Linked DNA regions of Homo sapiens. The protein of the gene in region 3 interacts with the protein of the main gene of each other region in a biochemical or structural test. Each region holds a gene or a part of one and is shown on either strand. Other genes may lie near its edges. The genes, in order: HIPK2, POU2F2, HMGA1, RCC1, NPM1, KAT2B and METAP2.

Region 1 (3,929 bases), on a different chromosome or scaffold from region 3:
AAATAGCTCATCTTTACAACAAAAATTAAACCAAGGAAGAGATTATTCTTTGTGTGTTGTACTCAAATGCGATGTTCAAATGCACATGTTAAGTATATATGTTTTTAGCTACTGTAAAATGCTGTTAGCCTTCTAAGCTATCAAAACAGTCACATTTTAAATGAGTAAACTAAACAATTGACTGTGGATACTTAAGCATATTTCTGGCTACGTTTTATAGTTAAAGTGTTTTATAGTTTACATTTAGACTGGTACTTTTTAAAGAAAAGTTCTGTTTATAACTGACATCCGCAAACCCCAGTGAATGCCTCTTAGTTGGAGGTTGTGTCTCCCCCAAGGCAAGTGTGTTGTCCCAGACTCTTCTGTAGTCCAGCATGCGCACTTCCCTCTGGATTATTACTTTCCACGTGAACTCAAGAGAACATGAAAGGCAATCCAGATGGAGGGAAAAGGTGTGAGTCCGCAGCCCGGGCCAGATGCGAAGGTCTCATGCGTGTCGTCTAAACACTTGTCTTCAAGGCCTTCTCTCTGACATCTTGGAAGAGTCATTGAGAACAGATAACCTGGTTCATTGATTTTTGTCTTGATTTGAATATTTAACTTATTAATAGATCCACTGATTTCCAGGCACCAGGCAGTAGAAGAGACTGGGATTCAGGTGACCATGAAGGCACAGCTGCTACTTCTGGGCCGGGGGTGATATTTTGATCAGCGTTTTGTAGGGGAGGACCATATACCCCTATTCCCATGGTCGCTGGCTGGGTTTTCCATATATCTGCTGTCATTTATTCGTTTTCCCCTTAAAAGCAAAATCAATGTAAAAGGCTATGTTTACGTTTTACTCATTGTCCAGCTTAGACTCAAAGTCTAGTTCGGTGGGAGGGGGACCTTAGCATCCTCTCAGAGATGGTCAGGGCTGAGCAGGAGGAGGCAGAGACAGAGGGGCAGCTCAGCCTGGTCCATTGAGACCCACTCTAAACAGACATCATATTTGGAACAAGAAGATGCTTCGAGACAGGAATGGGCCCCACTGTCATGCAGAAACAGACTGGGGGAATGGCAGTTTCCCTGAGTCTTGGTTTCTTTTATGTTTTCTCTTGTGCCACCACCAAACTGCAGAGGACCTGCTGTGACCTAAAGGGCATTCCTTTAGCAGATAAGACCTTGAAAACTGCAAAACACCTGGGACCAGGGAGCTTTTAAAAAATACAAAAAAATACCACATTTGCTTTTTCCCTGTGAACTGTATTGACAGCGTGTTCTTAGGACAGTCTTTTGGTGGAAATGTTACTGTAAAATAGTTTTCATCTCACCCCTCCTAATCATACTCCCACTTTCCTGTTTGTGTGGTGGTGTTGCTGTTTTTTCCTTTACATGAATTAACCAAATGAATTTTGTGTCATTGTTTTTGGGGCTTATATTTTTAAAACATAGAAATTGCCTTTTGTTCATTTGAAAAGTAAGTATGTTGTATCTGAAAAAGGGCTCTGCCTCTGCTCTCCCTCGCTTCCTTGTAACCAATCTCCAAACGAATCTCTCCTGGCACCGCCCCCTTCCTTATATAGGGTCACTGTCCCCGGGGCCACCTCTGCCTCCACCCTGCTGTCACCACTGCCCTGGGCCAAGGCACCCAGGACTCCCAGAAAGCGCGAGAGCCAGCAAGAAGGCCCCACTCAGCCTTGAGACTGGTGGTCACACCTCCCTGTCAGAGTCGCCTGCTGGGCTGAAGGGGCAATGGATTGTCATTGTTGAAATTGTTTGGCTCAGGTTATAAGGAGGAACTTGGGAAGTAGAAAGTGACTTGACCATGTGCATCCTTGGTAGCTTCCTGTAACTAACAAATGGAACAGAGAGCACACCCCCGCCCCGCCCCACCCCAAGCAGATGTTCCCGTCAGCGCTGCCCTGAGTCAGTCGGTCCCCCGTTTCTGCTCTCCTCCCTTTTGTGTTCCTGCTCACTTCAAGCTTCTTCCATGGACTTTCCAGGGCACAGTCATCTCTAGCCCCCAAATCATCTCTTCATCCTCTGTGTGTGCATTTTTTTAACCAAATGAAATAGACAAGAAAGTCATACTTTGGGGCAGCAGAATTTCTAATTTAGTAGAATCACTGTATAGAGATAGATGTTGATATATATGTTTGTGTATATATATCAAACCAAATTGGATAGGAGAAGTATAGCTTTACAGATGAGGAGAAGGAGCTCTTTAGAGGTCGGAGTCAAGACTGGTGTCTTGGACGTGCATGGGCTGTGTCCCAGGCCACTCCGCACACATGGGGCTGAGGCGTGGCGCCGGGCCCTTGTCATCCACCTCACCACGGCAGAGCCAGCAGGCCCTGTAGGGTGCTGCTGCTGTCTCACTGGGTCCCAGCTTCAAGCGCATCAGTGGGTGACGGGGGCAACAAATCAGAGTGACTGGAAGTTTCCATCCCGTTTTGCTTTGACCACGTGTACTGAGCTGCAGCCTCTGATACTCTGTCACGTTTCCAAAAATGGTATCCATTAGGATAGAAAGAGAATGGATCTGCAGAAATGTTTACCTTTCAACTGCTCATGAATTCAGGACACTGGATAGAAAGACTCACTCCCCAAAATGAGAACAGGGAAGAGGAGACCCGGCGACACTAAGTCACCAGGTCCAAGGAACGTGGCTCCCTCCCCAGGGTCATCTCACCTAGATCTTTCTCTCCCAGGTCATCTCAGCTCAATCTCAATAACCCTATGAAAGCCCTGGTCTGTTGTGTTCCTTCACCGTACGGTTTCTGTAATAAAAAGTGTTAATCCATGTTAATCTGTGTGAAAATTATTGCGTGCAACAGTATTTTCTCGTGTACCTCTTTTTCCTATGTGAATTGTCCCTCTTTTTTATTTATAAATGTCTACTTTTGTTTTTTTAAAGACAAACCAATGTGTTGTAGACCTATATGTAACCTATTCCTTAGTCTCATATTATAGGTATGTTATAAGAATGGATATTTTACTTGGCTTTAGAATGTTTTACAAGAAAACTAATTCTTAACTGATCAAGTCCTTGCTACTAAAATGCTTGTGTTTTTCATCATGACGTCGTGTGCTTCTAAATTAATCATTTTCGTTGTAGAAAAATGGAGTGAATTTATATTAGTCTTGGAAACTAATAATAGCATTGTAAATTTATGAGATGATTTTAACAGAAAAAATATAGAAGAATATAGTTATTTTAATTGTAATATTACTAACTGTAGGGTGAGAAAAAGGGGGGGGGGTCCCATTGTGGTGAACTATGTTATAGCTTGTTACTCATAGTTTCTTTTTGATCATTTTTTCGGTCTCCGAGGTGAAATGACTTATTAATTAAAATTTGTAAACTCACATATGCATATTGTATATGTGTAGAAATGTAATCACACTTTGTCTTGGAATTACATTAAACTGTTTGAAATCACTGTACACCTGCCTGGCATGCTTATTTATCCTGGAACCAGACCTGTCATAAAAGCGAAGAGGTTATTGTTACAAGTAACATATTTGGGGTTTGTTTGTTTATTTAGATGGAGTTTTGCTCTTGTTGCCCAGGCTGGAGGGCAATGGCACGATCCTGGCTCACTGCAAACTCCGCCTCCCAGGTTCAAGTGATTCTCTTGCCTCAGCCTCCCGAGTAGCTGGGATTACAGGCATGCACCACCACGCCCGGCTAATTTTGTATTTTTAGTAGAGATGGGGTTTCTCCATTTTTTGGTCAGGCTGGTCTCGAACTCCTGACCTCAGATGATCCACCTGCCTCGGCCTCCCAAAGTGCTGGGATTACAGGCATGAGCCACTGCGCCGGGCCGAGATTATTTAATGGCTCTGGAAATGTGTAGAAGCCACCACTGCATTGAACATTTGCAGAGAGAGGTGGGGGGCCTTGAGATCACATTACTACCAATTCCCATGCAGTTGAGTGGGGC
Region 2 (3,500 bases), on a different chromosome or scaffold from region 3:
TCTATTATTTGGCCTTTCCTTGGCCTCTGTTTGTCTCTGTCCACATTCCAAATATCACCCCCCTGCCAACACACTGTGTCATTTTGCCCAAGTTGCTTTCTGTCTCTGGACTTCCTTTTACAAAATGGTGTTGGGCTATCAGGCTGAAGGATAAACTCACTGTCCACTTTAGGCCTGAGGGTGTGTGATCCATCAGGCCATGCCTTCTCCCACCACTGTGTGTGCTTCAGCCAACAGGCCTTTCAGCCAACAACTGCTGTTGTCTGGCTTTTTACCTAGGAATGGAGGAGGCCAGGGTGGCTCTATGCTGGTCTGTTCTGTGTGTATGGTGCAAGGTGTGTCCATATCATATTCAGAAAGACATGGAGAGGCTTGGCAGACCTCAGGAGCGGAGGCTGAAGCCTGGTATTTCCTGGGCCACATCTGGCTTGTCCACAGTGCAGGACAAATGCTGTGCTTTGCTTATTATGCCAGTATTTTTGTTCTAGATTTTGAAAAGAGTGGCCAGCAGGAGCTGAGTAGGAGCCAGATAAGATTTCCACTTAGGCAGGCGCTCTCTCCAGCCCACCTCCATCCACCCCTACTCCTGTCATTCATTTGTGCCCATTTCTGTAAGCATCTGACTTTGTAGCCCAGGTTCCAAGGTGGTGGTTTTTCTTAGTACCTGAAAACCTTTTCTTCCAACAAAGTCTTACTTCATTGGACAAATAAGGGATGTACCTGGCTAGGTGCAGTGGCTTATGCCTCTAATTCCAGCATTTTGGGAGGCCAAGGCAGGAGGATCGCTTGAGCCTAGGAGTTCAAGACCAGCCTGGGCAACATAGTGATACCCTGTCTCTACAGAAAAATTTAAAAATTAGCCAGGTGTGTGGTGGGCACCTGTAGTCTCAGCTGCTTGGAAAGCTGAGGTGGGAGGATTGCTTGAGCCTGGGAGGTAGAAGCTGCAGTAAGCTGTGATCATGCCACTGCACTTCAGCTTGGGCAACAGAGTGAGACCTTGTCTCAAAAACAAAAAGAAAAAAAAAGCAAGAGAGATGTACCTCTGTGTGATACAGATGAAGGGTGTGGGACCCAGAAGCCACTTATTTGACCTCCCAGGTGCCCAGTGGGAGTATTTTCCTTTTTTTTTTTCAGAAATGGGGTTTCACCATGTTGGCCAGGCTGGTTTCAAACTCCTGACCCCAAGTGATCCGCCTGCCTCGACCTCCCAAAGTGCTAGGGTTACAGGTATGAGCCACCGTGCCCAGCCACTCTTTTCCATTTTACAGACAGGAAAACTGACTCTCAGGAGGGGAAAAGTGCTCTGCAAAGGCGACTTCTGTAGGGAGTTTGGGTGCAGGTGTTGTGTTAGCCCTATCTGATTGATGAGGAAACTGAGGCCAGAGGAGTGGTTTGAAGCTCCCAGCGGTCAGTGCAGGACCACAGACTGCACCCTCATGTCCACACCCCAGTCTGCTCCTCCTGTGCCAGCCTGATTGCCATTGCCACACACGTGCCCTCTCTTTGGTTCACAGGTGGGCATTCTCTCTGGCCTCCACTTAACATTCTGGGGTCCCGGACCCTGCCTCTCTCCCCCCCAGATCAAGGCTGAAGACCCCAGTGGCGATTCAGCCCCAGCAGCACCCCTGCCCCCTCAGCCGGCCCAGCCTCATCTGCCCCAGGCCCAACTCATGTTGACGGGCAGCCAGCTAGCTGGGGTAAGTACTTGGGGAAGGATGGGGACGAGGGGACAAACCAGCCACCCCTCATCTGTTACAGGGCTAGTGGATGAACTGTTCCACCAAGGCCATGGCCACTCTCTCACACCTGCCTCTTGCCCTCTTCTGTCCTCTAGGAGGTCTTGTCCCCTTACTTGCTTGGCTTAGGCACTAACCCCTCTCTGCCTTCTCTGCTCCTCTTCAACCCCTTGCTCCAATTCCTGCTGTCCCCGACACCCCGCAGCTCACGGCACTGATGCCAGCTCAGCAGCAGCTCCTCCTGCAGCAAGCCCAGGCCCAGCTCCTGGCCGCCGCCGTGCAGCAGTCCAGTGCCGCCGCTGCCGCTAACGCCGCTGCCGCCGCCGCCGCCGCCTCCGCCTCCTCCTCTACTTCCTCCTCCTCCTCCTCCTCTGCCTCCTCCTCGACCTCACAGCCCCCAGCCTCCTCTGGGGGGGGTGACCTGCCACCACCACAGCCTGCCAGCCAGCCCCCTGGGACCCCACAGCTCACCTTGTCCCAACCCATCCAGCTCACAGCACAGGTAAGGGCAGCCACTGGGGACCAGGCTCCCTGCAGTGAAGGACATGCAGAAACAGTGAGTGTGTGGGAAGGGGCTGACTGGTCCACATGGACTGTTCTGACCACCAGCCACATGCCAGGCAGTTCCTAGCAACCCTAGGAAGCTTTGGAAGATGTTGCTGTCCCATCTTACAGAGGGGTAAAGTGAGGCTCACAGGGAGGAATATCCCACATCATAATCCTCCCTCTGGTGGTGTGTTGGGGGCAGTGCTTCCTGTGCATCTCGCTGGGAGTTCACAGCCTCCTGGGAGGTTGAGATTGTTGTCCTCAACATACAGGTAAGGAAACCAGGAGTCACTCTCGTGAATGGTACCATGTGGGTACAAAACAAAAGGTTAAGAATAAGAATGAGTGCCCTACCCTCATCGTGTCCCCTGGCTTATCCAACAAGATGCTCTTTCAAAAAAGGGGCCCGTGATCTATGAATTAGGAGGTTCTCCATCACCTCCCTGACTCTGGAGCTTTTGCTGGTCCATAGTTAATCATGAATTAGTGGCTGTCTCAGTTTCCTAGGGCTGCCGTAACATAATACCATAAACTGGGTGGCTTAAGGCAACAGAAACATATTGTCTCCAACCACAAGTCCAAACTCAAGGTATCGGCAGGGCCGTGCTCTCTCTGAAGCCTCCCAGGGAGAATCTGTCATTGCCTCTTCTGGCTTCCGATGGTGCTGTCAATCCTTGGTGTTCCATAGCTTAGTAGATGGCTCACTCCAATCTCTGCCTCCTCTGTCGTCACATGGCCATCTTCTCTCTGTGCACCTGTCTCTGTATTCAAATTTTTCTTTCTTGTAGGGACACTAGTCATTAGTTTAGGGCCCACCCCATTGACCTCATTTTAACTTGATTACATCTGCAACCCTATTTCCAAATAAGGTCACATTTACAGGTACCAGGAGTGAGGGCTTCCACATATCTTTTTGGGGACACAATTTAACCCCTAACAGTGGCCAACAGAGTTCCCATAAGGACAGCCGGGGGAGCAGAGTGGGAGCTGAGTAGGCTTCCTCTTCCGAAGGGCAGCTGTCTCCAGCCCACTCCTGTCCACCCCTTCCCATGTCACCCATTCATGTTGTCTGTCTGGTTTTCACCCATTCATGTTGTCTGTCTGGTTTTCATAAGCCTTAGAGCTGTGGCCAAGTTTCAGGGCAGTGAAGGTCGTGGGAAGCCCTACAGCAAAGCCACCTGTTTAACTTCCCTTAGCCTGGCGTTTCCCTCAGTGACT
Region 3 (4,222 bases):
AGATGGATGAGACGCCGGAGGCCTAGGCTACACATTTTTCCAGTAACCAATCCCTGCCTGCCATGGTAAGGGGTGGGACAAGCGGCTCCACTTCTGAACCCCTCTCAATCTGTAAGATCAAGGTAATTATAAGGTACCTGCCTGAACTACCTCCTGACTGCTTCAAGGATCAAACTAGGTAATAGTTTAGAAAAACTTAAAATAATAGAAAGAAATCTTCACTCTAACCAAAATAAGAACTAGACCATTTGAAAATGATTTATGGGCCAGGTGAGGTGACTCATGCCTGTAATCCCAGCACTTTGGGATGCCAAAGCAGGAGGACTGCTTGAGGTCAGGAGTTCGAGACCAGCCTGGACAATACGGTGGGACTCCCATGTCTAATTTAAAAGAAAAAAAAAAAAGAAGAAAAAGAGTTTTTACCCCAATGAGAGGAAAAAAACATTTTTGCAAACTTGTGATTTCTAGAGGGCCCAGGACCTCCATTTTCAAGCATCAAGAGACCCTCCAGACAGCAGGACTTTGGTAATTATTCTATCTTATAATGTTTCAGACTTGGAGACCCTTTTAAACAAGGTGGTTGGTGATTTATCCTGCTCCGTCATTAGTGGCTTGGCCTGCTCTGCAATTACAGGCAGTGATTAGAATCTTATATTACACCACAGGTCCCCCTTCAAACTAAACATCAAAATTAATCAACTAAACGAGTGCTGACCTCATATAAGGTCTGCCTGGGGCCCCCTCATCGAGGGGGTTCCAGTTGGGCGAAGCCAGTCCGGAATCCCAGAGAGCCTGGCCCGGCCTGCCTGGAGATCTTGGCGGGTCTCCCTGGAAGCTCTCATACCATCTGGTGCCTCCCCCCACCTCTTGCTGCTGGGGACCCTTTAATCCCCTCAGCCAACCCCCCACGAACTAAATGAAGGCCCGAGGCCCTTTCCAGTGAGGCCAAGAAACGTTCGTCTTTTCCACCTGTTTCTGAACATCAGAGGCCTGTCTTGGAGGAACTACATTTAGGGCCTAACCCCAATCCCTCACTTTGTAATAAGCCCGCTTGGGCCTCAAGCCTGTCTCCTCCATACACTGTGCATGCAAACTGTGCTCCTCAAATACTTAAGGACTCTGCAGGAAAGGCCCTAGGAAATTATCTTGGGGGTTCCCTTGTTTTCTTCCCCGTCCCCCGTAAAAAAGTAGCCCAGAGAAGCCTTGAGTTGCCTAAGGTCACACAGCAAGTTGGCGAGCAGGAAGAAGTAGGTTCCCGGAGACCCTTTCAACCCGACACTTTGCCTACCCGCCTAGCGGCTAGGGCTAAACCCCCGAGGCATCAGGCTCCAGACCCGGCCCGAGGGTGACTCTGCAAGTGTCTGCGCCCGGCCGTTGCAGGCCGGCCGGCGGGACCCGGGGCCAGGGCGCGCGGGGGGAGGGGCGCAGGCCGCTCCTGCAGGCGCGGGAAAGCAGCGCACCCCGACCGCATGCACCGCCACGCGGGTGCACCCGGCCCCACTTCCTGCCAGAGGGGGCACCCAAGCCCGCCTTGGGGCAGGAAACCTGGCGCGCGCGGGCGCGGGGGAGAGGAAGAAAGCCCCCTCCCTCCGTCCCCTCCCCGCAAAATAAAGCCCCAGAAGAAAATAAAATAGAAACGGGGAGTCAAAGGGACTAGTTCCAACAGAGCCCAGCAAAGCAGCGAAACCAGTTTGTGGGGGCGGAGGGCAGGCCCGGCCCCTGGGGCTGAAGAGGCGCGGGCCAGGCCAGAGGTGGGGTCGGGGTGAAGCCCCAAACCCAGGCCCGCGCTCCGGCCTCATCTGCGGAGGGGGCGCGAGAGAAAGGCCGAGAGGGCGTAGGGCCGAATTTGGGGGTTCCTCCCCATCTCCCTCACTTCCAGAACTTCCCTGAGCTGCGGGGGGCGCCCGACCCCCCACTCTCCTGCCGCGCCGCAGCCCGTGTCTCTCCCCGCCCCTCACCCGGGCCCGGGCTCGGGCTCGGGCTCCGGCTCCAGCGGGAGCGGCCGCCGCGCGAGGTGCGCCGGGCTCCTCCGGGCTCCGCCGGGTGCACAACTCGCGCTCGCCGCAGCTGCGCGCCCCCTCCCCCACCGCGCGCCTTTCCCGGGTCCCCGCCCCCCGCAGGGCGCCCGCGGCGCGGGGGAAGGGGTGCGGGCGTCCTCCCCGCGCCGCCGGGCCCCGCCGCCCGCCCCCGCGCCGCGCGGCCCTCCCCCGCCGCCGGCTCGCGCCGCCCCGGCCTGGGAATAAAGCCGGCGGCGCGCGCTGCAGCCCCGGGCGGCTCGCAGGAGGGGCGACGTGCGGGCGGGGGCGCGGGCGCCCCCCTCCGCCGCCGCCGCCGCGGGCCCCGGGGACGACTCACCGCGAGCTCGGCCGCCGGCCTGCGGTGCGCGCTCCGGGTTGCCGGGAGCGGCGGTGCTGGGCGCTGAGGACCGGCCTGGCTCCGCCGCGGCCGCCGCTGGTAGCAAATGCGGATCTGAAACCGGGAGAGAGCAGAGGCGCTCAGAGACCGCCGCCGCCGCGTGCTCGCCGCCCAGGCCCCCGCGGGGTATTTATGTGTCACAGCCAGGCGGGGGGACAAAAATATTCCCCCTCCCCCGAAGGATGGCGAGGGGCAGGAAGCTGGGCACGGCCCGTGCGCGGCCTCAATAAATAAATAATTTAATTAAATTATAGATATAAAAAAAAGAAGCCACCGGAGCGGCCGCGAACTCACGCCTTCTTGGAGCCGCGCCAGCGCCAGAAATAGCCCCGGCTCGGAGTCCCAATTAGAGGAGCGCAGCACCGGCTCAGGGGAGCTTAAAAAGAGCGACCCAGGGGCAGGGGGGACGGGCCCGCCCGCGCCAGCCGTGTCACTCAGGGGGCGGGGCCATGCAAATGAGCCCGGGGATTTAAAAGGGCGGCCGCCCGCCAGCCGCCGCCGCCGCTGCCGCGCGGGTGGGTGCTGACGGCAGGGAGGGGCGTGTGGGAGGCCTGGGCTGCGAACTCGAGTCGACCGCCCACTCCTCGCAGTCCCGGACGGAGGAGGTGTGGGAAGGCACGCGCAGAGGAGTCACGAAGGAGCTTCTGGCGGGGGGTGGTGACGGGTGGCGGTATCCTTCCTCCCTGGTACAGGGGTCCCAGGGAGAGTCACCTCTAGGGGCTTCCAGGGCGTGTGGGCCCGGCCCCCCCCCCAGGGCGTGTGGGGGTGGACGGGGGTCCACGCGGGCCCAGGGGGTGAAGAGAAACGCGCTCGTTAGAGAATTCCGCGGCCTACACGCCGCCCCCTAACTAAAATAGAGAGATGGTAGATTTCCCCTGGGCGGACAGGTGTCAGCATGTGCCTTTCAGTGTCAACCCGCGTGTGGCTGATTGGTGAGATACAAGTCTTGTGAAATTCAAACGTGAAACTTGTGAAATCCAAAGTGTTTTATTAATGGCCACCAGCGAGCCATGATCAAGGTGGAGCCTTCCAGCGAAACCAACGATTGGCTCGTTGGCAGGTACACCCAAGGGAGGCTTCATACCTTGAGGTGACTTAGATGGTGTTCTGGAGATACGCAGGCCCACTTGGGGACCTGGGCCCTTCCGTTGGGACTGTAAATAAAAATAAAAGGTGGGCCAGAGGTCGCCTGGAAGCGCTTTGAGGGCAGGGGCCGAGCACGCAGGCCATCTCCGCCACGCCTGGCCCGCCCGGCGCCCGGCTTAACAAAGACTTGTTGCACCGAGCGAGAAGGAAGCCAAAGGGGAAGATGGCGGGGAGGGCGGTGGGGGAGGAAAGGGCGCAGGCGGAGCGGCGCGCCCTGCAGGCCGGCCCGGGGCCTTCTCGGGCGCACCTCCCGCGCCCGGTCCCCGAGGCGGCCTTCCACACCTCCTGTGATGCAGGGAATTGAAATGCGCTCCAGTGACACACGGCTGTGACTCATGTTTTTCTCTGCTCCCCTTCTTCCTCCCCGGTCAGCCGAGGCCCTGGCCCAGCCCCCTCCTCAGGGGGCGAGCCGGCGGTGGAGGGGACGCAGGAAAGCCCTGGGCCCGGCGCGGAGGCGGGGTGGGGAGCGGCGGGCTGGGCCTTGCAGTTGCAGGAATGTGGCAGGAATGTTTCCGGTGGGGGTGGGGAGCGGGCGGGGGGTGGGCCCAGCCCCCACCCGTGCGGCGGGAAGCGCTCGGGGCCCGGGCAGCACGTGCTTGACCGGGTGGGGGCGGGGGCGCCTGGGCGGGAAGGCGCCAGGGGCCGGGAGCGCGGGTTCAAA
Region 4 (3,500 bases), on a different chromosome or scaffold from region 3:
GGTTAGTTTGCTCATCTATTCCTAGTTTCTTAAGCTAGTAGCTGAGCTCATTGATTGGAGACCTTTCTTTTTTTCTAATGTAGGCATTTAGTGCTATAAATTTCCTCCAGATACTGTTAACAACACACAAATTCTGGTATGTTTTGTTTTCATTTTAATTCATTTCAAAATATTTTTGAGTTCCTTTTCTATTCTTTGATCTATGGGCTACTTGAAAGTGTATTATTGTTGTTGTATTAGTGTTGTTCAAATCTATCCTTGCTAGTTTCTTTTTTTTTGGAGACTGCGTCTCCAAAGGCTGGAGTGCAGTGGCACAATCTTGGCTCACTGCAAGCTCCGCCTCCTGGGTTCACACCATTCTCCTGCCTCAGCGTCCCCAGCAGCTGGGACTACAGGTGCCTGCCACCATGCCCTGCTAATTTTTTGTAGAGATGGGGTTTCACCATGGTCTCAATCTCCTGACCTTGTGATCCACCCGCCTCGGCCTCCCAAAGTGCTGGGATTACAGGTGTGAGCCACCGCGCCCAGCCTCTTTTTTTTTTTTAGACAAGAGTCTCACTCTGTTGCCAAAGCCAGAGTGCAGTGGCACAATCTCAGCTCACTGCAACTTCTGCCTCCGGAGTAGCTGGAATTACAGTCACGCACCACCACGCCCAGCTAATTTTTTTGTATTTTTAGTAGAGATGGGGTTTGCGCGGCTGAAGTGCAGTGATGCGATCTCAGCTCACTGCAACCTCTGCCTCCCAGGTTCAAGCAATTTTCATGCCTCAGCCTCTGGAGCAGCTGGTACTACAGCATGCACCACCATGCCTGGCTAATTTTTTTGTATTTTAGTAGAGATGGGGTTTCACCATGTTGCCCAGGCTGGTCTCAAACTCCTGAGCTCAGGCAGTCCGCCTGCCCTGACCTCCCAAAGTGCTAGAATTACAGGCATGAGCCACCGTGCCTGGCCTTATTTTAAAATTTTATTTCTTGTAGGTAACATGTTGGGTTTTTCAGTATGACAGTCTATGTCTTTTAATTGGAGTGTTTAGGCTATTTACTTTTTTTTTTTAAGACAGGGTCTCACTCTGTCACCCAGGCCAGAGTTCAGTGGCAAGATTATGACTCACTGCAGCCTTAAACTGGAACTCCTGGGCTCAAGCCATCCTCCCAGCTCGGTCTCCTGAGTAGTGAAGACCACAGGCATGTGCCACTATGGCTGGCTAAATTTTGTATTTTTTGTAGAGACAAGGTCTCATGATGTTGTCCCAGCTGGTCTTGACCTCCAGGGCTCAAGCAATCCTCCCACCTTGGCCTCCCAAAGTGCTAGGAATACAGGCATGAGTCACCATGCCCAGCCATATTATACATTTTTAACTTACAATAGTCCACATTCAATTGATATTAAACCAGTTCACTTGTAGTATAAGAATCTTCCCCAGCCTGGCCAATATGGTGAAACCCCGCCTCTACTAAAAATACAAAAAAAAAAAAATTAGCCAGGTGTGGTGGTGCTCGCCTGTAGTCTCAGCTACTTGGGAGGCTGAGGCAGAAGATTGCTTGAACCTGGAAGCAGAGGTTGCAGTGAGCTGAGATCGTGCCAGCCTAGGCAACAGAGCAAGACTCCGTCTCAAAAAAAAAAAAGGCGGGGCCCGGTGGCTCACGCCTGTTATCCCAGCATTTTGGGAGGCCGAGGCGGGCGGATCACGAGATCAGGAGATCAAGACCGTCTTGGCTAACACGGTGAAACCCCATCTCTACTAAAAATACAAAAAATTAGCCGGGCGTGGTGGCGGGTGCCTGTAGTCCCAGCTACTAGGGAGGCTGAGGCAGGAGAATGGCATGAACCCAGGAGGTGGAGCTTGCAGTGAGCCAAGATCGCGCCACTGCACTCCAGCCTGGGCGACAGAGCGAGACTCCGTCTCAAAAAAAAAACAAAAAAAAAACCTTCTGGCGGCCTGGTGTGGTGGCTCACACTTGTAATCCCAGCACTTTGGGAGGCTGAGACTGGCGGATCACCTGAGGTCGGGAGTACAAGACCAGCCTGACCAACATGGAGAAACCCCGTCTCTACTAAAAATACAAAATTAGCCGGGCATGGTGGCACATGCCTATAATCCCAGCAACTCGGGATGCTGAGGCAGGAGAATTGCTTGAACCTGGGAGGCAGAGGTTGCAGTGAGCCGAGATCATGCCATTGCACTCCAGCCTGGGCAACAAGAGCAAAACTCCATCTCAAAAAAAAAAAACAATCTTCCGGCTGGGCACAGTGGCTCACGCCTGTAATCCATCCCAGCACTTTGGGAAGCCAAGGCAGGCAGATCACGAGGTCAGAGCGAGACTCCGTCTCGAAAAAATAAATAAATATTTCTTCCATTTCTCACTATATAGTCTTTGATATTGTCATGTGTCTTACTTTTATATATGTTATAAAACCCACAGTACATTATTACAGCCAGAACCTCCATATCAGCCAGTTGCGATGGCTCACTCCTGTAATTCCAACACTTTGGGATGCCAAGGCAGGCTGACTGCTGAGGCTCAGAAGTTCAAGACCAGCCTGGCCAACATAGTGAAACCCTGTCTCTACCAAAAATACAAAAATTAGATGGGCAATTAGCTGGACGTGGTGGTGCACGCCTGTAATCCCAGCTACTCGGGAGGCTGAAACAGGAGAATTGCTTGAACCCAGGAGGCAGAGATTGCAGTGAACTGAGATCACGCCATTACACTCCAGCCTAGGCAACAGAGTGAGACTCCGTCTCAAAAAAAAAAATTAGCTGGGCATGGTGGTGCACATCTGTGGTCCCAGCTACTCGGGAGGCTGAGGCAGAGGTTGCAGTGAGCCGAGATCCTGCCACTGCACTCCAGCCTGGATGACAGAGTGAGACTCTTGAGACAAACAACTGGGGCTGGGCGCAGTAGTTCACACGTGTAATCCCAGCACTTTGGGAGGCCGAGATGGGTGGATCACTTGAGGTCAAGAGCTCAAGACCGGCCTGGCCAACATGGTGAAACCCTGTCTCTATTAAAAATACAAAAATGAGCCGGGCATGGTGGTGCGTGTCTGTAATCCCAGCTACTCTGGAGACTGAGGCAGGAAAATTGCTTGAACCCAGGGGGCAGAGGTTGCAGTGAGCCGAGATTGCACCACTGCACTCCAGCCTGGGCAACAGAATGAGACTCCATCTCAAAATAAAATAAAAAATACAAATACAAAACTAAAAAAATAAAAATAAAGGCCAGGTGCAGTTGCTCATGCCTGTAATCCCAGCACTTTGGGAGGCCAAGATGGGCAGGTCACCTGAGGTCGGGAGTTCCAGACCAGCCTGGCAAAAATGGTGAAACCCGGTCTCTACTAAAAATACACAAAATGGCCAGGCGCGGTGGCTCACGCCTGTAATCCCAGCACTTTGGTAGGCTGAGGCGGGTGGATCACCTGACGTTTAGGAGTTCAAGTCCAGGCTGGCCAACATGGTAAAACCCCGTCTCTACTAAAAATACAAAAATTAGCTGGG
Region 5 (3,500 bases), on a different chromosome or scaffold from region 3:
GCACTCAAGCCTGGGCAACAGAGACTTGTCAAAAAAAAAAAAAAAAGAATTCTTGCCAGGCACAGTGGCTCACAGCTGTAATCTCAGCAGTTTGGGAGGCAGAGGGAGGTGGATCACTGAAGACAGGAGTTTAAGAACAGCCTGGCCAACATGGCAAAACCCCTTCTCTACTAAAAATACAAAAATCATATCAAAAAGAAAAAAGAAAAAAGAATTCTTACAACTTAGTAAAGACAAAGAGAAGTAAATGGATTTAAGTGGGCAAAAACATTTCTCCAAAGATATATGGCCAATGAATACATGAAAAGATGCTCATTATTAGTCCACAGGGAGACGCAATCAAACCCACAATCAGCACTTCATACCACCAGGATTAGAGTCAGATAATGGCAAGTGAGGGTGTAGTGAAATCAGTAGGTTGGAGTGAAATCAGAAGCCCCATACACTGCTAGTGGGAATACAATGGGTGAGCCACTCTGCTTTAGGTGTACATCCAAGTAAAATGACATGTCTACAAGCGTTCATAGCAGTCAACAAGTAGAAGCAACTCAAATGCTCACCAACTGATGAATAACCAAACATACCCATACAATGTATTCAACCATATAAATAAATGGAGTACTGATAATGCTATAACATGGATGAAACTTGAAAACACTGTGCTAAGAAAACAGTCACAGAAGTCCATTCGTGCAAAATATGAGGGACAGGAAACCTATAGACAAAGTTCATTCGTGGTTGACTAGAGCTGAAGAGCATGAGGGGTAATACCTATAGAGTACGATTTCTCATTGAGGTGATGAAATGTTCTAAAATTGATTATGGTGATGGCTACACAACTATGCATACTAAAACCACTGAACTGCACACTATTTTTTTTTGAGTTTTACTCTTGTTGCCCAATCTGGAATGCAATGGTGCGATCTCGGCTCACTGCAACCTCCGCCTCCCGGGTTCAAGCAATTCTCCTGCCTCAGCCTCCCCAGCAGCTGGGATTGCAAGCGCCCACCATCACACCCAGCTGTATGTTAGCAGAGACGGGGTTTCACCATATTGGCCAGGCTGGTCTTCAACTCCTGACCTCAGGTGATCTGCCCGCATCGACCACCCAAAGTGCTGGGATTACAGGTGTGAACTGTTAATAGGTAAACAATGGAGGGGAGTAATCAAATCGAGTCACTGGAGGGCAAGTCAGGCAGAAGTCTCTATTAGCAAATACCAAGGGGTTCACGTTTAATTCAACAACTGAACGTACTGGTCTCTAAATCCCAATACAGCAACTTCATGTAAGAAACACCTATCTTTCCAATACCGAAGAAATATTTGCTGTATTTAGAAAAAGTATCATAACTTAAAAAGCTGTCACAAATAGCCCTTCAAGTGGCTTTTTAACAGTGATTTTGTCAGTACAAGTTTCTGGCATTAGAACCCAATCCCTGCAGGTGCCTCCCCTGTGCTAGAAACAAGATGAGAATGCTTTTTTTAAACATTTTTTCTTATTTGTTAAAACAAGTCTATTAAACTACTATCAAAATAGCTATCAAAACTACTATCAAAACAGCTTTACTGGCAGGGTGTGGTGGCTCACACCTGTAATCTCAGCACTCTGGGAGGCTGGGGTGGGCAGATCACCTGAGGTCAGGAGTTCAAGACTAGCCTGACCAACATGGCGAAACCCCATCTCTATTAAAAATACAAAAAATTAGCCTGGCATGCTGGCACATGCCTGTAATCCCAGCTACTTGGGAGGCTGAGGCAGGAGAATCACTTGAACCCGGGAGGCAGAAGTTACAGTGAGCCATGATTGCACCACTGCACTCCAGCCTAGCCAACAATGCACTTCAGCCGGGGCAACAGAGACTGTCTCCAAAAAAAAAAAAAAAAATTCAGCTTTACTTAAGAAATTCCCCAAAAATTAAAAAAGACATTTAAGGGCCACATACTATCAACGTATTACATACATCTATGTATAGTATACATCAGCACTATGCACATTACATAGCCTTTCTTGCTTAAATCAAGAGTCATCTGAGCCCACACCATATACCCATTCCATCCTCAAAAAGGAACCAAATTCCCCTTTGATCTGTGTTCAAAAGGTTAGATTTCTAAGTAACTATAACGAACCTTCATGCACCTCTTTGCATTTTCATTGCCATCTATCTATGCTGGGCCCTTGCCATCTCACCACTGAAGTTTCTATTAATATTTGTTTCCCTCAAGGCATCCTTTACTACTATGCAGACCTTAGTACACTTTCTTCAACTTATATGAAAACTTGCGGCGGTGCATGGTGGCTCACGCCTGTAATCCCAGCACTTTGGAGTTCGAGACCAGCTTGGCCAACATGGTGAAACCCCGTCTCTACTAAAAATACAAAACTTAGCCAGGCGTGGTGGCAAGTGCCTGTAATCCAAGCTACTCTGGAGGCCGAGGCAGGAGAATCACTTGAACCTGGAAGGCAGAGGTTGCAGCGAGCAGAGATCATACCATTGCACACCAGCCTGGGGCACAAGAGCGAGACTTGCCGAAAAAAAAAAAATCCCACAAAAAAAACCAGGTACTGATTTGGACCTTGATATCTACACTTTTCATTCCTATCAATGCCCAACTTAAAGACAAACAAAATTACATTGTGGTTACATCATGAATTTATACCCATTTTTCTGAGATGGGAGTCTCCCTCTGTTGCCCAGGATGGAACACGGTGGCGCATTCTTGGCTTGCTGCAACCTCCACCTCCCAGGTTCAAGCAATTCTCCTGACTCAACCTCCTAAGTAACTGGGACCAATAGGCAGGCACCACGATACCCAGCTAATTTTTGTATTTTTAGTAGATACCGGGTTTCACCATGTTGGCCAGGCTGGTCTTGAACTCCTGACCTCAAGTGATCCACCCACCTCAGCCTCCCAAAGTGCTGGGATTACAGGCGTGAGCCACCATGCCTGGCCTAATTATATCAATTTTTAAAAAAGGAAATCTTCCAAAGCCCCAACAGGGTCAATACTACAATCAGGTCCTACTCCAAAGCCTTTCTGGAAGGGATTGCTTGTCCCCGAGCCTCGGTGAATGCTATTAAACACTTATTTTATAAACTTGTACAAAGGTAACTCAAAATCAGACTAAACCAATCCGAACCATACCATCCCTATTTCTAATTTGTGTTTTTAGCCTGTTTCCCATTCTTCTCTTGGAATGTATTTCAATTCTTACTAACGAGAAATATTCTTAAAAGTGATAACCAAACAAGCTGGGCTTGGTTATGCTCCTGTAACCCCACCTGCTTCATAGTCTGAGAGGGGAGGATAGCTTGTGCCCAGAGATTCAAGTCCAGTCTGAGTAGCATGGTAAAACACCATCTCAAGAAAAAAAGTGGCCGGGCACGGTGGCTCATGCCTGTAATCCCAGCACTTTGGGAGGATGAGGTGACCAGATCGCCCGAGGTTAGGAGTTTGAGAATAGCCTAGCCAACGTGGTGAAACCCCATGTCTATTAAAAA
Region 6 (3,500 bases), on a different chromosome or scaffold from region 3:
TGACAGCTTCCAGGAAATGAAGAAATGGCTTGGAGATTATATTACAGTGTTAATTTTCAATTTGTCATGTTTCTTTAAATATTTATTTTATGACATTGAGGATACTTCAGAGAACCAGAATGTTGTAATAGAAAAATCTCTTCCTAAAATTGATCTTTCCATTTCCTCCTAGATGTCCAGTCTGTGAGGGCTTAAGACTATAGTTTTTTAGGGATTTAGTAACATTACAGATTAGCTGAGTTTAGGTTTTTTTCAGCTATAAAATGGGGATTTGTACTAGTCTATTGCATTGCTACAAAGAAATACCTGAGACTGGGTAATTTATTTTTTTAAAAAAGAGCTTTAATTGGCTCACAGTTCCACAGACTGTACAAGAATGGCATCAGCATCTGCTCAGCTTCTGGGGAGGCCTCAGGGAACTTATACTCATGGTGCAGGGTGAAGTGGGAGCAGGCACATCACATGGTGAGAGAGGGAACAAGAGAGTGAGGAGGAGGAGCCAGACCCCTTTAAACCACCAAATCTCATATGAACTAACTGAGCAATAACTCATTCATCAACAAGGGGATGGTGCTAGGCCATTCATGAGGGGTCTGCCCTGATGATCCAACACTTCCCACTAGGCCCCACCTCCAACATTGGAGATTGCATTTCAGCATGAGATTTGGAGGGGTCACACATTCAAACTACATCAGGATGCAGTCACATGTTTGAAAATATTTTGGATATATTAATATTTAGTAGTGTACTAGAGCTGGCTTGTACTGGAATGCACAAGAAAATTGTTAAATTTTCAGGAGTTTTGTGAGCTGGTTGTTCCATATGTTGGTAGCTTGAAGTTGACTAGCATGGCACCTGGTTACCTGGATAGCCAGTTCTGGACTAATGAGATGAAGTGTCACCAGTTAGGGCCTTCCTTCCTTGAAGAGCTGTTTGTGGAGCATCTACTTGCAAACCACTAGGCAGATTAAATAAGATGGGGAGCATAAGTGCTGGCACATGGTTGTGCTTCCAGCTATGGTTGAGTGTAGGTCAACAGATATTCTCTGGAAAGAAAACTGTTCTTTAAAAAGAGGTGTTAAGAATATATACATGAGGCCGGGCGCGGTGGCTCAGCCTGTAATCCCAGCACTTTGGGAGGCCGAGGCGGGCAGATCACGAGGTCAGGAGATCGAGACCATCTTGGCTAACACGGTGAAACCCCGTCTCTACTAAAAAATACAAAAAATTAGCTGGGCGCCGTGGCAGGCTCCAGAGGCTGAGGCAGGAGAATGGCATGAACCCGGGAGGCGGAGCTTGCAGTGAGCTGAGATAGCGCCACTGCAGTCTGGCCTGGGCGAAAGAGCGAGACTCCGTCTCAGAAAAAAAAAAAAAAAAAAAGAATATATACATGAGTGCTACTATTGGGCCTGTAATGAGAATTTGAATCTGTCATCTCAAGGGTCCTTAAAGCTCAGCTGGAGAGGATTCCTTGAAGCCAGAGGTTGGCAAACTATAACCCACAGGCCACATTTTGTCTGCTTACTGTATTTTTAAATAAAGTTTTATTGGAACAGTACTGCACCCATTCTTTAACATATTGTCTGTGGATGCTTTTGCATTATAGCAGAAGAAGGAGTAGTTGTGACAAACACCTTATGGCTCACAACGTCTAAAATATTTTCTATCTGGCCCTTCACAGAAAACTTTGCTGGCCCCTAATCTACACTGAATATCATCCGTGTACACATATAATACTCCAATTTCTCAAAATGCTTTACCTGCCTTTTCTGTCTTGTCTTCATAACTTGTATGTGTATGTGTCTCTGTGTGTATGTGTGCACACATGTGTATTTAGGACTCTGAAAATCCACAAATGTGTATCTTATTAGAACAAAGATGAGAAGCTTGGATGTGTCCCATCCCCACTGTCTTGAGAGAATAGCTCTGTGTAATTTTTTCCTGTCTCTTGCATCTCAGACCAATTTTCTGTCAGCACACTCGGCCAGGGATGAGGCGGCAAGGTTGGAAGAGCGCAGGGGTGTAATTGAATTTCACGTGGTTGGCAATTCCCTCAACCAGAAACCAAACAAGAAGATCCTGATGTGGCTGGTTGGCCTACAGAACGTTTTCTCCCACCAGCTGCCCCGAATGCCAAAAGAATACATCACACGGCTCGTCTTTGACCCGTAAGTGGTACTTTCTGTTCCTTCTTCCTTATTTCCTTTTTAAATGAAAGAGGAACTGCTTAGATAGTGAAAGTCAGCCATAGTCATCCACCGAATACTACTGCACCTGTCTTGCTGTGGATACAGAGCTTCACCAAGCTGATTTTCATGTCTGAAAGTGCTAAGAGTAATTTTCAACAATTTACAAATTTTCTTGTTAATGATGATGAAACTTTATATTTTACATTGCTGATGACTCTCCTGTGCTTCATTCTTTATAGCAGTGAGAGAATGTAACACTAAGATGTTCTGCTTTCTTCATAATCAAAATATTGGTTTTGGTATCTTAACTAGGTGCCATTATTGCCCAGGTCTGTGGGCAATTATTGGGATATAAGACAGGTTAACTTTGAAAATCCATTGCTTAAAAAAAAAAAACAAAAAACTAGGCCGGGCATGGTGGCTCATGCCTGTAATCCCAGCATTTTGGGAGGCTGAGGTGGGAGGATCACCTGAGGTTGAGAGTTTGTGACCAGCCTGACCAACATGGAGAAACCCCGTCTCTACTAAAAATACAAAATTAGCCAGGCCTGGTGACACATGCCTGTAATCACGGCTACTTGGGAGGCTGAGGCAGGAGAATTGCTTGAACCCAGGAGGCGGAGGTTGTGGTGAGCCGAGACCGTGCCATTGCACTCCAGCCTGGGCAACAGAGCGAAACTCCATTTCAAAAAAAAAAAAAAAAAAACCCACGAAACCCTAAAGAACTAAACTTCTCTAATTGAATTTATTTTAACATACATAGCCCAGTAGCCTATGGGGACTGTGATCCATGCCTGTGACAATTCAGAGTGATGCTTTAGACAGAGGGAAGGATTCCATAATGCGGAATTTTGCAAATTGTATATGTAAATTTTAAATTCTTTTTCATAATGTTTCTGTAATATTTTGGAGTAAGACTTAACTCTTCAGAGACACATACCATGTTTGTCCATGACTTCCTGCTCTCCCTGACCCCTCCTTGGCACTGGCTGTGCCAGTTCCAGAGCACCTCTGCACATACTCTGTTCTCTATTTGTAAACCTCAGGCACTTCTTAGGTGACTGGTATTTTGTTCTGATGGGAGTGCTGATGACATCTTGTGCAGGCGACCTAGCTCTAAAAAGTTCAGATAAAAGGATGGTCTAGCGAGATAGGGGCTACATGAAGGAAGTTTCTATAGAAACTTAGGACATGTCCCTCTTTCTTAGTTGGTTAATAAGGAACACCCCAAAAAGTATATTTATATAACTAGGATAGGTAAAACTTTGACATAATCTTATTCTTTCAGGAAACACAAAACCCTTGCTTTAA
Region 7 (3,500 bases), on a different chromosome or scaffold from region 3:
ATGAACAAATAAGATCAGCATTTAAATTGGTCTAAGTTAGACTCTTATTTTCTAGTAAATTTAGTTAAAAGTGGATTGTGTTTCTCTGACTTTCTAGCAGAATCAAATTCCTTGTCTTCTAAAGATATGCTATTTTCATAGCATCAGAGAACTGTTATTTATTTATATTCAGAAAGTGCTCAGATCATTCCCAGAAGGTATTTAAGGTTTTTAGTAAACTTTCTGGACTTGATGAACTATATGGTATTAATATATAAAAGTAAGAATGTAAAAGTAAACAAGTTCCCTTTGCTTTTTTGTTTTAGTGAAAAGTTGGAAGACTGTTCACGCAAGTTAATAAAAGAGAATGGATTAAATGCAGGCCTGGCATTTCCTACTGGATGTTCTCTCAATAATTGTGCTGCCCATTATACTCCCAATGCCGGTGACACAACAGTATTACAGTATGATGACATCTGTAAAATAGACTTTGGAACACATATAAGTGGTAAATTCTTGCAGAAAATTCCTACCCCAGCCTCCTCCTGAAAAACTAGTTTTTGTCTCTGTTAAATGGAGTGATAAATACTGAACTCCCAAATTTTGTTCTTGCTTCCTCATTTCATTAGGAAAGGTGTGTTGAGGCAGATTTTTAAAAAAATTTTAGTGCACTTATAGGAGAGAGAGGCAGTTGTGACATTTACTTGAAAGCATACTACTAAGTAGAATAAAATGAAAACTGTTGGGTAGTTGAGGTTTATTACCCTTTGTATCAAGGCATGAAAGACATTATCCTACCTTTCTTTAGGTCATTGTTTCATATCTCTTTTATTCAAATAATAACATTTATTTAAAATACTTAAGTTTATCAGCCTTAATATACATGTTTGCTTTTCTGAATTCTCTCCAAAACCTGGTTAGGTAAGCACCTTGTTATCTTACTTACAAGTGAGAAAGCAAGCTTAGAATAAATACTTGCCTAAGGTTTCACTACCTTGGAAAAGTAAAAGTATATTCAGAGCCCTGTATACTTTCTCTGCCCTGCGTTACTATTTCTCATTTCCCTAGTCTTTTCTTGTATTCATTTTGTTTCTGTTTATATGTTTGTATAACTGCCAGGGTGAGCACTGAACTGGTGCTGTCTTGGGGTAATATATACTAACCTTGTAATTCTTTCTATTCTGAATCCTTTATATACTTCTACATTTTGTCTCTTTGATTATGAATGATCTTTGGGTATTTGGAGTGCAGCCTTCATTTGAGCCTTCATTCTATTTTTCTGTTAAACTAGCAAGATTAATAGATTAAATGCTGTAAAGTAGATAAATTGACTAGCTGATAAGTAAAATTAAAAGAGGAATTTTCTCTTTCAGGTAGGATTATTGACTGTGCTTTTACTGTCACTTTTAATCCCAAATATGATACGTTATTAAAAGCTGTAAAAGATGCTACTAACACTGGAATAAAGGTATGTGAACTGTAAGCACCATTTCATTCCCAATATTTTGAGCACTTTAAGGTCTTTTAAACACTTAACAGCATTTAAGCACTTTTAAGGCCTGTTTAAGGGCTTTGGGTAATTAAGAGGAATAAAATTGATCCATTTCCCTTATGGTTTTAAGCGGGTAAGTGTATGATTGTGTACCAAAGGTTGTTTTTTTGTTTGTTTGTTTGTTTCCCTTGAACTTTGCTAAAATTTATTAAAACAGAGTTTGGATCTATTTTTGCCTGTCAGTTGGCAGTGGTTTTTTTGTGGTTCTTTTTTAGAACAATTTTAGGTTCATAATAAAATTGAGCAGAAAGTACAGAGATTTCCCTTATACCCACCCCTCCCCAATTTCCTCCATTGTCAGCATCCCCACCACATAGGTATATTTGTTAAAATCATTTGAACTAGCATTGACCACATCACAATTATTCAAAGTTCATAGTTAACATTAGGGTTCATTCTTAGTAATATACATAAGGGGTTTGACAAATATATAATGACACGCATCTACCATTATAGTATCATACAGAGTATTTTCATAGCCACCAAAATCTTCTGTGCTCAACTGATTCATCCCTCTCTGTCCACCAAACTCTGGTACAGCCCAGCTTTTCCCCACCCACTCAAATTTTTTTTTTTTTTGGAGGGAGGTGCAGTTAAAATAGACATTACATAAAATTTACCATATTAACTTTTTCTTTCTTTTTTTTTTTTTTTTTTTTTGAGATGGAGTCTTACTCTGTTGCCCAGGCTGGAGTGCAGTGGCACGATCTCGACTCACTGCATCTTCTGCCTCCTGGTCTCAAGTGATACTCCTGCCTCAGCCTCCCGAGTTGCTGGGATTACAGGCACGCACAACCACTCCCGGCTGATTTTTATGTTTCTAGTAGAGATGGGGTTTCACCATGCTGGCCAGGCTGGTCTCAAACTCCTGATCTCAAGTGATCCTCCCGCCTTGGCCTCCCAAAGTGCTGGGATTACAGGCGTGATTCACCGCGCCTGGCCATTTTTAAGTATGTTGTTCATTGGTATTAAGTACATTCATAATATTGTGCAGCCATTATCACCATTCTTCTCTGTTTACTCTTCATGTTATAAAACTGAAACTCTATACTCATTAAACAGTAACTCCCATTTTCCTCTTCTCCCCCTACCCTGGCAACCACCATTCTACTATATATGATTTTTACTGCTGTAAGTACCTCATATAGTGTTTGTTGTTTTGTGACTGGTTTATTTCACTTAGCACAATGTACTCAAGGTTCACCTATGTTGTAGCATGTGTCAGAATTTACTTCCTTAAGGCTAAATAATCTATTGTGTGTATATACCACATTTTTGCTTATCCATTCATCCACTGATAGACACTTGGATTGCTCCGATGTTTTAGCTATTGTGAATATTGCTGCTATGAATACGGGTGTATAGATACCTCTTCAAGGTCTGTTTTCAATTCTTGGGTATATACCCAGAAGTGGATTTGGGAATCATCTGGTAATTATATCTTTTTAAACTTTTTGAGTATCTTCTCTACTACTTTCCACAGTGGCTGTACCATTTTCATTCCCACCAACAGTATGCAAGGAAAGGCTCCAATTTTTCCATTTCCTTGCCAACACTATTTTCTGGGTAGTTTTTGTTTGTTTTTTGTTTTTAATCTTTGGAGAAATGTCTATTCAAGTTTTTTGCCCATTTTTATTTATTTATTTTTTAATTAAAAAATGTAGGCCAGATGTGGTGGCTCATGCCTGTAATCCCAGCACTTTGAGAGGCCAAGGCGGGTGGATCACGAAGTCAGGAGATGGAGACCATCCTGGCTAACATGGTGAAACCCCGTCTCTACTAAAAATACCAAAAAAAAAAAATAGCTGGGTGTGGTGGCGGGCGCCTGTGGTCCCAGCTACTGAGGAGGCTGAGGCAGGAGAATGGCGTGAACCTGGGAGGCGGAGCTTGCAGTGAGCCGAGATCGCCCCACTGCACTCCAGCCTGGGCGACTGAGCGAGACTCCATCTCAAAAAAAAAAAAAAACAGT

Evidence for each region.
Region 1: of the proteins of HMGA1 (region 3) and HIPK2, one has a biochemical effect on the other in vitro, tested with the Homo sapiens proteins (one study listed by IntAct).
Region 2: the proteins of HMGA1 (region 3) and POU2F2 form a complex in vitro, tested with the Homo sapiens proteins (one study listed by BioGRID).
Region 4: the proteins of HMGA1 (region 3) and RCC1 interact in far-western blotting, tested with the Homo sapiens proteins (one study listed by BioGRID).
Region 5: the proteins of HMGA1 (region 3) and NPM1 interact in far-western blotting, tested with the Homo sapiens proteins (2 studies listed by BioGRID).
Region 6: of the proteins of HMGA1 (region 3) and KAT2B, one has a biochemical effect on the other in vitro, tested with the Homo sapiens proteins (one study listed by BioGRID).
Region 7: the proteins of HMGA1 (region 3) and METAP2 interact in far-western blotting, tested with the Homo sapiens proteins (one study listed by BioGRID).

What each region holds. Positions count from the first base shown.
Region 1 is NC_000007.14:139,561,070-139,564,998, reverse strand, and holds the end of HIPK2 (homeodomain-interacting protein kinase 2), read left to right. Parts: 3' UTR 1-3,429; downstream 3,430-3,929.
Region 2 is NC_000019.10:42,115,447-42,118,946, reverse strand, and holds part of POU2F2 (POU domain, class 2, transcription factor 2), read left to right. Parts: intron 1-1,514; coding exon 1,515-1,697; intron 1,698-1,941; coding exon of another isoform or gene 1,942-2,238; intron 2,239-3,500. UniProt on the Homo sapiens protein: Transcription factor that specifically binds to the octamer motif (5'-ATTTGCAT-3'). Regulates IL6 expression in B cells with POU2AF1. Regulates transcription in a number of tissues in addition to activating immunoglobulin gene expression.
Region 3 is NC_000006.12:34,235,451-34,239,672, reverse strand, and holds the start of HMGA1 (high mobility group protein HMG-I/HMG-Y), read right to left. Parts: upstream 2,801-4,222; 5' UTR 2,792-2,800; coding exon of another isoform or gene 2,710-2,791; exon of another isoform or gene 2,470-2,709; coding exon of another isoform or gene 2,356-2,469; intron 2,259-2,355; coding exon of another isoform or gene 1,293-2,258; intron 883-1,292; exon of another isoform or gene 716-882; intron 1-715. Other genes in the region: translation initiation factor IF-2-like, read right to left, coding at 1,293-2,258, 2,356-2,469, 2,710-2,791, 2,943-3,098, 3,417-3,427. UniProt on the Homo sapiens protein: HMG-I/Y bind preferentially to the minor groove of A+T rich regions in double-stranded DNA. It is suggested that these proteins could function in nucleosome phasing and in the 3'-end processing of mRNA transcripts.
Region 4 is NC_000001.11:28,512,543-28,516,042, forward strand, and holds part of RCC1 (regulator of chromosome condensation), read left to right. Parts: intron 1-3,500. UniProt on the Homo sapiens protein: Guanine-nucleotide releasing factor that promotes the exchange of Ran-bound GDP by GTP, and thereby plays an important role in RAN-mediated functions in nuclear import and mitosis.
Region 5 is NC_000005.10:171,394,349-171,397,848, reverse strand, and holds part of NPM1 (nucleophosmin), read right to left. Parts: intron 1-3,500. UniProt on the Homo sapiens protein: Involved in diverse cellular processes such as ribosome biogenesis, centrosome duplication, protein chaperoning, histone assembly, cell proliferation, and regulation of tumor suppressors p53/TP53 and ARF.
Region 6 is NC_000003.12:20,123,946-20,127,445, forward strand, and holds part of KAT2B (histone acetyltransferase KAT2B), read left to right. Parts: intron 1-1,959; coding exon 1,960-2,168; intron 2,169-3,477; coding exon 3,478-3,500. UniProt on the Homo sapiens protein: Functions as a histone acetyltransferase (HAT) to promote transcriptional activation. Has significant histone acetyltransferase activity with core histones (H3 and H4), and also with nucleosome core particles.
Region 7 is NC_000012.12:95,494,652-95,498,151, forward strand, and holds part of METAP2 (methionine aminopeptidase 2), read left to right. Parts: intron 1-305; coding exon 306-487; intron 488-1,352; coding exon 1,353-1,447; intron 1,448-3,500. UniProt on the Homo sapiens protein: Cotranslationally removes the N-terminal methionine from nascent proteins. The N-terminal methionine is often cleaved when the second residue in the primary sequence is small and uncharged (Met-Ala-, Cys, Gly, Pro, Ser, Thr, or Val).